Regions from separate parts of the Homo sapiens genome. Here all the other regions are linked to region 1. Evidence: fine-mapped QTL for protein levels in blood plasma. A gene starts in region 1. Each other region holds a variant in brackets. All regions are shown on one strand. Distances are between the middles of the regions.

Region 1 (2,850 bases):
GATTTTCCGAAGTTAATTTAACCCTGGATTTACCTGAGTCCATGAAATTACAAATCACACCATGTTAGATGGAATAGCATAATAATCAACAACACCGGCACTGGAGTCAGACTAAGGTGGTTCAGACCCTGCCTCCTATAGCTGCCACCTGTACATCCTTGGGCAAATCCCTTAATGTGCCTACCCCTCAGTCTCTTCATCTGAAATGAAGTTAACTGTAATACCTACCTTCTAGTTACGAGAACTGTGTGCTGCTCAAAGTGCTAGATGTATTATCCTCCTCATCATCGTCATTGGGAACTTAAAGAATTTTAATCTAAGAAAATACATTTTGGCCGATTGTAAAAGAAAACTAATTTATTAATATTGGTGTTGTAGCAGCTTCTGTGGTGACTCCAGAATTCATGTTGGAACTCATTCAATTCAGGTAGATAGAGTAATTACAGTTCACATTTATCTTGAAGCCTGACTGAGCTAAGCCCTTCGCATGGATTATTTCATTTTACCTCACAATGACCTTGAGGTGAGGTTTATTATTATTCCCACTTTACAGTTAAGGAAACTGAGGTTTGGAGAGTTTAAATAATAGCTAAGCCTAAGCTTACCTAGTGAGAATTGGACCTGTGTTAGGAACATAGGCAACCTAAATTCAGAGCTTCCAGAGCCAATCTACTTACAGCAGCTTTCTTAAATTAAAAAAAAAAAGAAAGAAAGAAAGAAACGATACATAAATTAAAAATTATTGGCCGGGCATGGTAGCTCATGCCTGTAACCCTAGCACTTTGGGAGGCAGAGGCAGGTGGATTGCTTGAGCTCAGAAGTTTGAGACCAGCCTGGGCAACATAGTGAAACCCCATCTCAATTTAAAATAATAATAATAATAATAAATTCTTGGGACACTATCAACTAATAGCTAGAGAAACTAATAGCTTAGAAAATTTATTTCCAAGGGACTTTTGTTAAGATACTATATTGTAGTCTGAGAATCAATGATTTTCAAAATAACACATTGCCCTATTACAGCAAAACTACACTTCAAATGTTCAAATTTCACACATTGTTAGAAATTTAAAATAAACTAAGCCAATTGGAAGACCTCAAAAAATATTTACAGAAAGAAAGACATTAACATTGTTTACCTGTTACTTGAATTGAAGGGAATAAGTTGAGAGCCAAGAGCAGCCTGAGCATCTTTGTCCTGACGATGGGCTAGGGTTCCAGCCCCTCCTCCCCGAGGAACCCGAAGTGTGAGGGGAACTGAAAGACGCACCTGCCAAGGCCTGAGAGTCTCCGTCATCCACGGCCACCACCACCGCCACCATCCCCTTAGGGCACATGATCAAGGCACTCAAACCACAAGGCATCCTGACTGCAGCATTTCACACAGGATATAACGTTGTTTTGATGACTTTAGACTTTTACTTCTATTTTTAAAGACTTTTTTTTTGTCACTGAAAAATAGTCGGTCACTACATGATGGGCTTATGGGAATTATTCTTTATTGATGGATATCAAGAGTTGTGTAAAAGGGGTGCTTGAAATCCAGCAGAGATTAAAGGGGAGACAAAGTGTTCTTAAGAAGGAACAGGCCGGGTGCAGTGGCTCACGCCTGTAATGCCAGCAATTTGGGAGGCCAAAGTGGGTGGATCATTTGAGGCCAGGAGGTCAAGACGAGCCTGGCCAACATGGTGAAACCCCGTCTCCATTGAAAATACAAAAAATTAGCCAGGCATCATGGTGGGTACCTGTAATCCCAGCTACTAGGGAGGCTAAGGCAGGAGAATCGCTTGAACCCAGGAGGTGGAGGCTGCTATGAGCCGAGATCATGCCACTGCACTCCAGCCAGGGCAACAGAATGAGAAAAGAAAGACAGAAAGAAAGAGAGAAAGAAAAGAAAAGAAAAGAAAAGAAAAGAAGGAAAGAAGGAAGGAAGGGGAGAGAGAAAAAAGAAAGGAAGAAAGAAAGAGAGAGAAAGAGAAAGAAAGAAAGAAAGAAAAGAAAGAAAGAAAGAGAAAGAAAGAAAGAAAGAAAGAAAGAAAGAAAGAAAGAAAGAAAGAAAGAAAGAAAGATGGAAAGAAAGAAAGAGGGAGGGAGGGAAGGAAGGAAGGGGGAGAGAGAGAAAGAAAGAATAAAGTCTCTAGCAGAGGAGAGATTTTCATAGGATGGGGACAGGTTGTGTCAAAAAGATAATGGTAAGAATTCTACTGAGGAATTGGGAAACATCTGCATAAACGTTTAAAGGAGTTACAAATATTAGAAATGTAACATTTGTGTAGGACATAAGGTAGCCCTCTGGAGCATTTAGCACACAGTGCTTGATTTATGTCAAGCCTCCTCCAACTCACTTCTAGGAACTTTGCAAAACCCATTCTACGTGCAAGCAGCCAGCCAGCTGAGTATCTGGGGGAGGTTCCCTAAGCAAAGGGAAAGTCAAAACAACATTCTATGTTCTTAGTGGGACAGTAAGGCAACCAAAAGCCCCTTGGTGTCTCATGCTCTCTATGTCCCTCAAGGTTAAGTAATAGGGCACAAAAGGAGGCTCCGTGGCAGGATTTCTGAGATTCATAACCACCACCCGACTGCACCCTTCTTCAACTCCCAGGCCCTTTGCAGAGAGGGTTATTCCACCAGCACGGCCAACTGCTCTCTTCTTCCGGCACCTACGTCAGTATCTTGTACTCAATGACTTCTTCAAAACTTTTCCAGTAATTTTTTTCTTCTTTTTGATAATCTAAGCTTTGTGCAATTACTCTAGTTGGGGGTTTTGTGTATGTGGGTTGTTTTAAAAGATAACTTGTATTGCTTTTTATTCTGACTATAAAAGTAAGGCATATTTCATTGAGAATGTTT
Region 2 (2,850 bases), 43 kb after region 1:
ATAATAAATAAATAAAATCTCATTAGTTCTCAGGGTAATCTTTATAGGGGTCTGAGGATAGGGTTAAATTGTTACTACAGTTGTGGCAGACCTCGACAATGCAAAGCCCATAGAAACACATCAGTGCCCATCATTGTTAAAAAATAGTATTAAATGTGCTTAGGCACCAGAACTATAATCTAAGAGGCAGAATCCAAGTCTTAAGTCCCAATTCCTGTTTTCTGAAGCATAGCAAAGTAATTTACTCTCCGAGTAAAACAATCTTTCTAGATCAGTGGTTCTCAAAGGATGAGGTTTCTAGATCAGCAGCATTAGCATCACATAAGAGCTTGTTAGAAATGCAAATTCTCAGCTGTGCGGCCATAAAAAGGAAGGAGATCATGTCCTTTGCAGGGACATGGATGAAGCTGGAAGCCATCATCCTTGGCAAACTAACACAGGAACAGAAAACCATGAGGCTGGGTTGGTGGCTCATGCCTGTAATCCCAGCACTTTGGGAGGCAGAGGCAGGCAGATCACTTGAGGTCAGGAGTCCGAGACCAGCCTGGCCAACATGGCGAAACCCCATCTCTACTAAAAATGCAAAAATTAGCTGGGTGTAGTGGCAGGCGTCTGTAGTCCCAGCTACTTGGGAGGCTGAGACAGAAGCATCACTTGAACCTGGGAGGCAGAGATTGCAGTGAGCTGAGATCATACCACTGCACTCCAGCCTGGGTGACAGACCGAGACTCTGTCTAAAAAAAACAAAACAAAACCAACACTGCATGTTCTCACTCATAAGTGGGAGCTGAACATTGAGAACACATGGACACAGAGAGGGAAACAACACACACCAGGGCCTGCTGGGGGATGGGGGATGAGGGGAGGGAACTTCGAGGACAGGTCAACAGGTGCAGCAAACCACCATGGCACAGTATACCTTTGTAACAAACCTGCACGTTCTGCACATGTATTACGGTTTTTTTTTTTGGAAGAATTAAAGAAGAAAAGGAAAAAGAAAAAAATGCAAATTCTCAGCCTCATCCTCCACCTGCTGAAGCAGAAACTTCAGGTGAGAGGCCCAGCAATCATGTTTAAACAAGCCCTCCAGGAAAAGCTGATGCACAGTACGATTTGAAAACTATGACTCTAGGCCAGACCAAATAGTGGCCTGTGGAGCACAGCATTAGCATTTCCTGGGAGCTCATTAGAAATGCAGAATCTCAGGCCCCACCTCAGACCTACTAAATCAAAAACTGCAGC[C/T]GAACCAGATCCTCAGGTGATTTGTATATACATTAAAGTTTGAGGAGCAGGATCAAGGATCAAACTGAGAAACTTAAAAACCTAAACAAATAGGCAGAGCACAGTGGCTCACGCTGTAATCCCAGCACTTGGGGAGGCTGAAGGGGGCAGGTGACCTGAGGTCAGGAGCTCAAGACCAGCCTGGTCAACATGGTGAAACCCCGTCTCTACTAAAAATATGAAAATTAGCTGAGTGTGGTGGCACACGCCTGTAGTCCCAGCTACTCGGGAGGCTGAGGCAGGAGAATCGCTTGAACCCAGGAGGTAGAGGTTGCAATGAGCAGAGATCACGCCACTGCATTCCAGCCTGGGCAATAGAGCGAGACTCCGTCTCAAAGAAAAAAAAAACCTGATTTTATAAATATGTCACTGCAAAATTTACAACACACTCTCTTCCTCATATAACTCTCTCAATAACCTTGTAGATTAGGTATTGTCATGACCTCCATCTTACGTATGAGACACAAGGAGAGTGGATAATTTGCTGGATGCCACAAAGCCAGCAAACAAAAGAGCCAGGATTTCAATCTAGGTATTTTGACTGTGAAAGGTAGGCTCTTAGCCAGCACCTATAACAAGTTATTCTGATTGTAACTCCAGTAAGGTCTTTTTTTCTCTCTCTTTCACATCACACTGCTTCTCTAACAGCAATTACATTCATCGCAACCAATTAAGCCTTTCCCCTAAAACTAAAAATAATATATATCTATTTTAGTTGAACAAATATTTATGGAGGTCTATTTTTTAGCAGAGAAGCCTGACCTGTTGGAGCTTATAGTGCTAGGTTAATAAGTGTAGGTGCTCAATAAATATTTGCTGAACCAATGAATCAGTGAATAATTTTATTATAATATGCTAAGTGATTCAGGAGGAGAGATGAGAGCCCTGTATACATTCTGGGGCCTCAGACATTTGCTGTAAATGATTAATGCTGAGCTGAACCCATAAAGAGAGGAAGTGTCAACCAGACAAAGAATAAGGGAAAGAGGATTCCAGGCATGTTAAAGTGCTGGGGCTTTATCTGAAGATGACAATCACTAAGTACTTAAGGAACCATATGGTCACTCAAATAGATATGTGTGAACACATATACATAAACAGTTATACCAAAAAAAAATCAAAATACCAAGAATCCACTCCCCAAAGCCATTAGAACTTCCAGGGTGAAATAAACCACTAGGATTTAGATTATTAGCAACCATACTCTATGAGAATATATGAATGTGTGGTTTGTAATTAAGGTCTTGCCCCCCTGTACACAGGAATGGAGAGAAAGGGCTTAGTGGTCTGAGTTGCCTGCAGGATTCAGAGGGCCAAAAAGAGATAGAGGAAACAGAGCCCAGGCCTTGGAACCTTCAGAAAATAATGGGAAGCCCCCTGCTCCTGACTTAGTTTCAGTATCAACTCTTATAGAAAATAGGAATAAGAGGGACAAATTTGAGTGACACCATTTTTCTTTTTGACACATAAATGACACACCATTAAGATGCCTGCTCTTGAGAATTCCTCAGAAAGTGAAATTATCCTCCTCCTTAGCTTCATGGTTTGGTTCGTTTTGTTGGTTTTTTG
Region 3 (2,500 bases), 900 kb after region 1:
AACCTCTTTGTTAAGTTTACCTGATAGGATTCTGAATTCCTTCTCTGTGTTATCTTGAATTTCGCTGAGCTTCCTCAAAACAGCTATTTTGAATTCTCTCTCTGAAAGGTCACATATCTCTGTCACTTCAGGATTGGTCACTAGTACACTATTTAGTTTGTTTGGTGAGGTCATGCTTTCCTGTATGGTCTTGATGCTTGTGGATGTTTGTTAATGTCTGGGCATTGAAGAGTTACGTATTTATTATAGTCTTTGTAGTCTGGGCTTGTTTGTACCTGTCCTTCTTGGGAAAGTTTTCCAAGTATTCAAAGAACATTGAGTTGTTGTCATCTAAATCTTTGGTCATTGTAGCTGTATCTGCATTGGCAGGGGCACCCCAAGCCCAGTAATGCTGTGGCTCTTGCACAATTGTAGAGATACTGCCGTGGTGGTCTTGGGTAAGATCTGGGAGAATTCCCTGTATTACCCAGGCAGAGACTCTTGTTCTTTTCCCTTACTTCCCCCCAAACACATGGAGTTTCTCCAAAGCCAGCAAAATACTGGGTCTCAGCCTGGGCCTCCTGTTACCACTGCCTGGCTACTGCCAATATTCACTCAAGGCCCAAGGGCTCTACCATCAGCAGGAAACAAATCCAGCCTGGCTTGTGTCGTTCTCTTCAGGGTGGCAAGCTACTCCCCAGCCTAGAGCAGATCCCAGAATGCCATCTGGGAGCCAGGGCCTAGAGTCAGGAACCTTAGGAATCTACTTGGTTCTCGATTCTACACCAGCTGAGCTGGCACCCAAGCTGTAAGACAAAATCCTTCCCACTCTTCCCTCTTTTTTCCTCATGCGGAAGGAGTCTCTCCCTGCAGCAGGTACTGCCTGGCTATCGCTGATACTCACCCAAGGCCCAAAGGCTCTTCAGTCAGCTTGTGGTGAATGCTGCCATTTTTAGGACTCTCCCTTCAAGGTAGTGGGCTCCCCTTTAGCCCAGGGCAGGTCCAGAAATGCCATCCAGAAGCCAAGGGCTAGAACTGACTACCCCAGGTGACTTCTTGGTTCTCTACCCCACTGTGGCCAAGCTGGTGCCCAAGCTGCAATAAAAAGTTCCTTTACTCTTTCCTCTCCTTACCTCAGGCAGAGGAAGTCTCTCCCTGTGGGCACCATAGCTTAGAATGCACTGGGTCACACCTGAAGCCGGCACAGCCCTGGGTCTTACCCAAGTCCCATGGTGAGTACTGCCTGGGTGCTGCTGATGTTTATTCAGGGCCCAGGGTCTCTTAGTCATCAGATGATAAATCCTTCCAGGACTGGGTCCTTCCCTT[T/G]AGGGCAGTGCATTCCCTTCTGGCCCTGGGTATGTCTAAAAATGTGATCTGGGAGCTAGGGCTTGGAATGAGGGCCTTGGGACTCTACCTTGTCCCCTATCCTACTGTGGCTGAGCTGGTATCCAAGTTGCAAGACAAAGTCCCCTTTACTCTCCTTTCTCCTCTCCTCAAGCAGAAAGGAGTTTCTCCTGGAGCTGTAAGCTGCACTGCCTGGGATTGGAGGAGGGGTGATGTAAGCACTTCCTTGGCTGGCTGGCTGGCTGGTATCTCACTAGGTCACATGTACCCTAACTCCACTGGCTCCAAGCCCAGCACAACACCAGGGCTTGCCCAGGAATTGCAGTACTTGTGGCCTAGACTGCCTTTCAAGTTTATTTGGAACCCCAGAGTGCTTTAGCTTGCCATGGTGGGGCTTGCTGGAACTCAGATTCTGACCAGTGGGATGGGTGGTTCCCCTCTGGCTGGGGCTGGTCTAACTGCCCCCTCTGTGAGTACTGGCTGAATTCTGCCCCATGTTGCTTTCAGCTGTGGCAGGCAGCACTGAGTTCTAATGCAAAGTCCCACAATCACTGCACTCTCCCTCCCACAAGTACAGATTCTCTCTCCACACCATGTGGCCACTGCCAAGAGATGGTGGAATGGTGGTGTTGGCAATTCAAGACTGTCTTTCCTATCTTCTTCAGTGCCTCTTTCAGTGATACGTAGTTAAAACCAGGTACTGTGATCTCTCACCCGATGTTTGGTTGTTATGAAGGTTCTTTCTTGTATGGATAATTGTTCAATTTGTTGTTCCTGTGGGGTACAGGGGGGAAATGATGGCTGGAGAGTTCTATTAAGCCAGCTTGCCCTGCCTCCTCTCCCCAAAGATAGGTGCTTTTAAACGCAAAAGTCCAGTTTATAGGGTTGCATGATTAAGTTTTGAGTTTTCCCTCATACTGAAATTTGTGTTATCTTTAAAAAATAAATACATGTTATATATACAGTCGACATATATTTGAACCACTGTGGTAAGGAAGAGTACAGGCTTTGAAAACAGAAAAATCTGAGTTTGGATCCTGGCTTTTTAAAACATCATTTATGGCTCTCTCAGTTGTCTCATCTGAAATAGGAGTTATTTATGCCTATCTTACCAGGGACATTAGGGATAGAGGTAATATTGAGAAACTCCATAGCACATAGTAGGTGACCAATAAAT

Alleles and levels. Alleles are on the strand shown, and positions count from the first base shown. The strength of an association depends on the size of the effect and on how common the allele is.
As copies of C replace T in region 2, the plasma level of the protein whose gene starts at base 1,249 in region 1 goes down (weak association).
With allele G in place of T in region 3, the plasma level of the protein whose gene starts at base 1,249 in region 1 is lower (weak association).

What was found. A credible set is the group of variants that fine-mapping cannot tell apart. PIP is the chance, under the fine-mapping model, that this variant and not a neighbour inherited with it causes the effect. Protein levels are from antibody-based Olink assays in UK Biobank. Linkage for the fine-mapping came from a reference panel and not from the study's own genotypes, which makes the PIPs less certain.
Region 2: its variant is the best candidate, but not a certain one, in a credible set for the plasma level of the CD28 protein (UK Biobank, PIP 0.58).
Region 3: its variant is the best candidate, but not a certain one, in a credible set for the plasma level of the CD28 protein (UK Biobank, PIP 0.79).

What each region holds. Positions count from the first base shown.
Region 1 is chr2:203,705,038-203,707,887 of GRCh38, reverse strand. It overlaps CD28 (CD28 molecule), which reads right to left and starts at 1,249. Exons shown (of 4, transcript NM_006139.4): 1 at 1,140-1,249. The coding sequence starts at 1,191. RefSeq lists an enhancer at 1,220-1,369.
Region 2 is chr2:203,662,498-203,665,347 of GRCh38, reverse strand. No RefSeq gene overlaps it. Among named protein-coding and RNA genes, the nearest start is that of CD28, 43 kb to the left of the region's middle. The variant C/T (reference allele first, on the strand shown) is at 1,243.
Region 3 is chr2:202,806,697-202,809,196 of GRCh38, reverse strand. The region is part of intron 9 of ICA1L (islet cell autoantigen 1 like); the gene reads left to right. Among named protein-coding and RNA genes, the nearest start is that of ICA1L, 64 kb to the left of the region's middle. The variant T/G (reference allele first, on the strand shown) is at 1,306.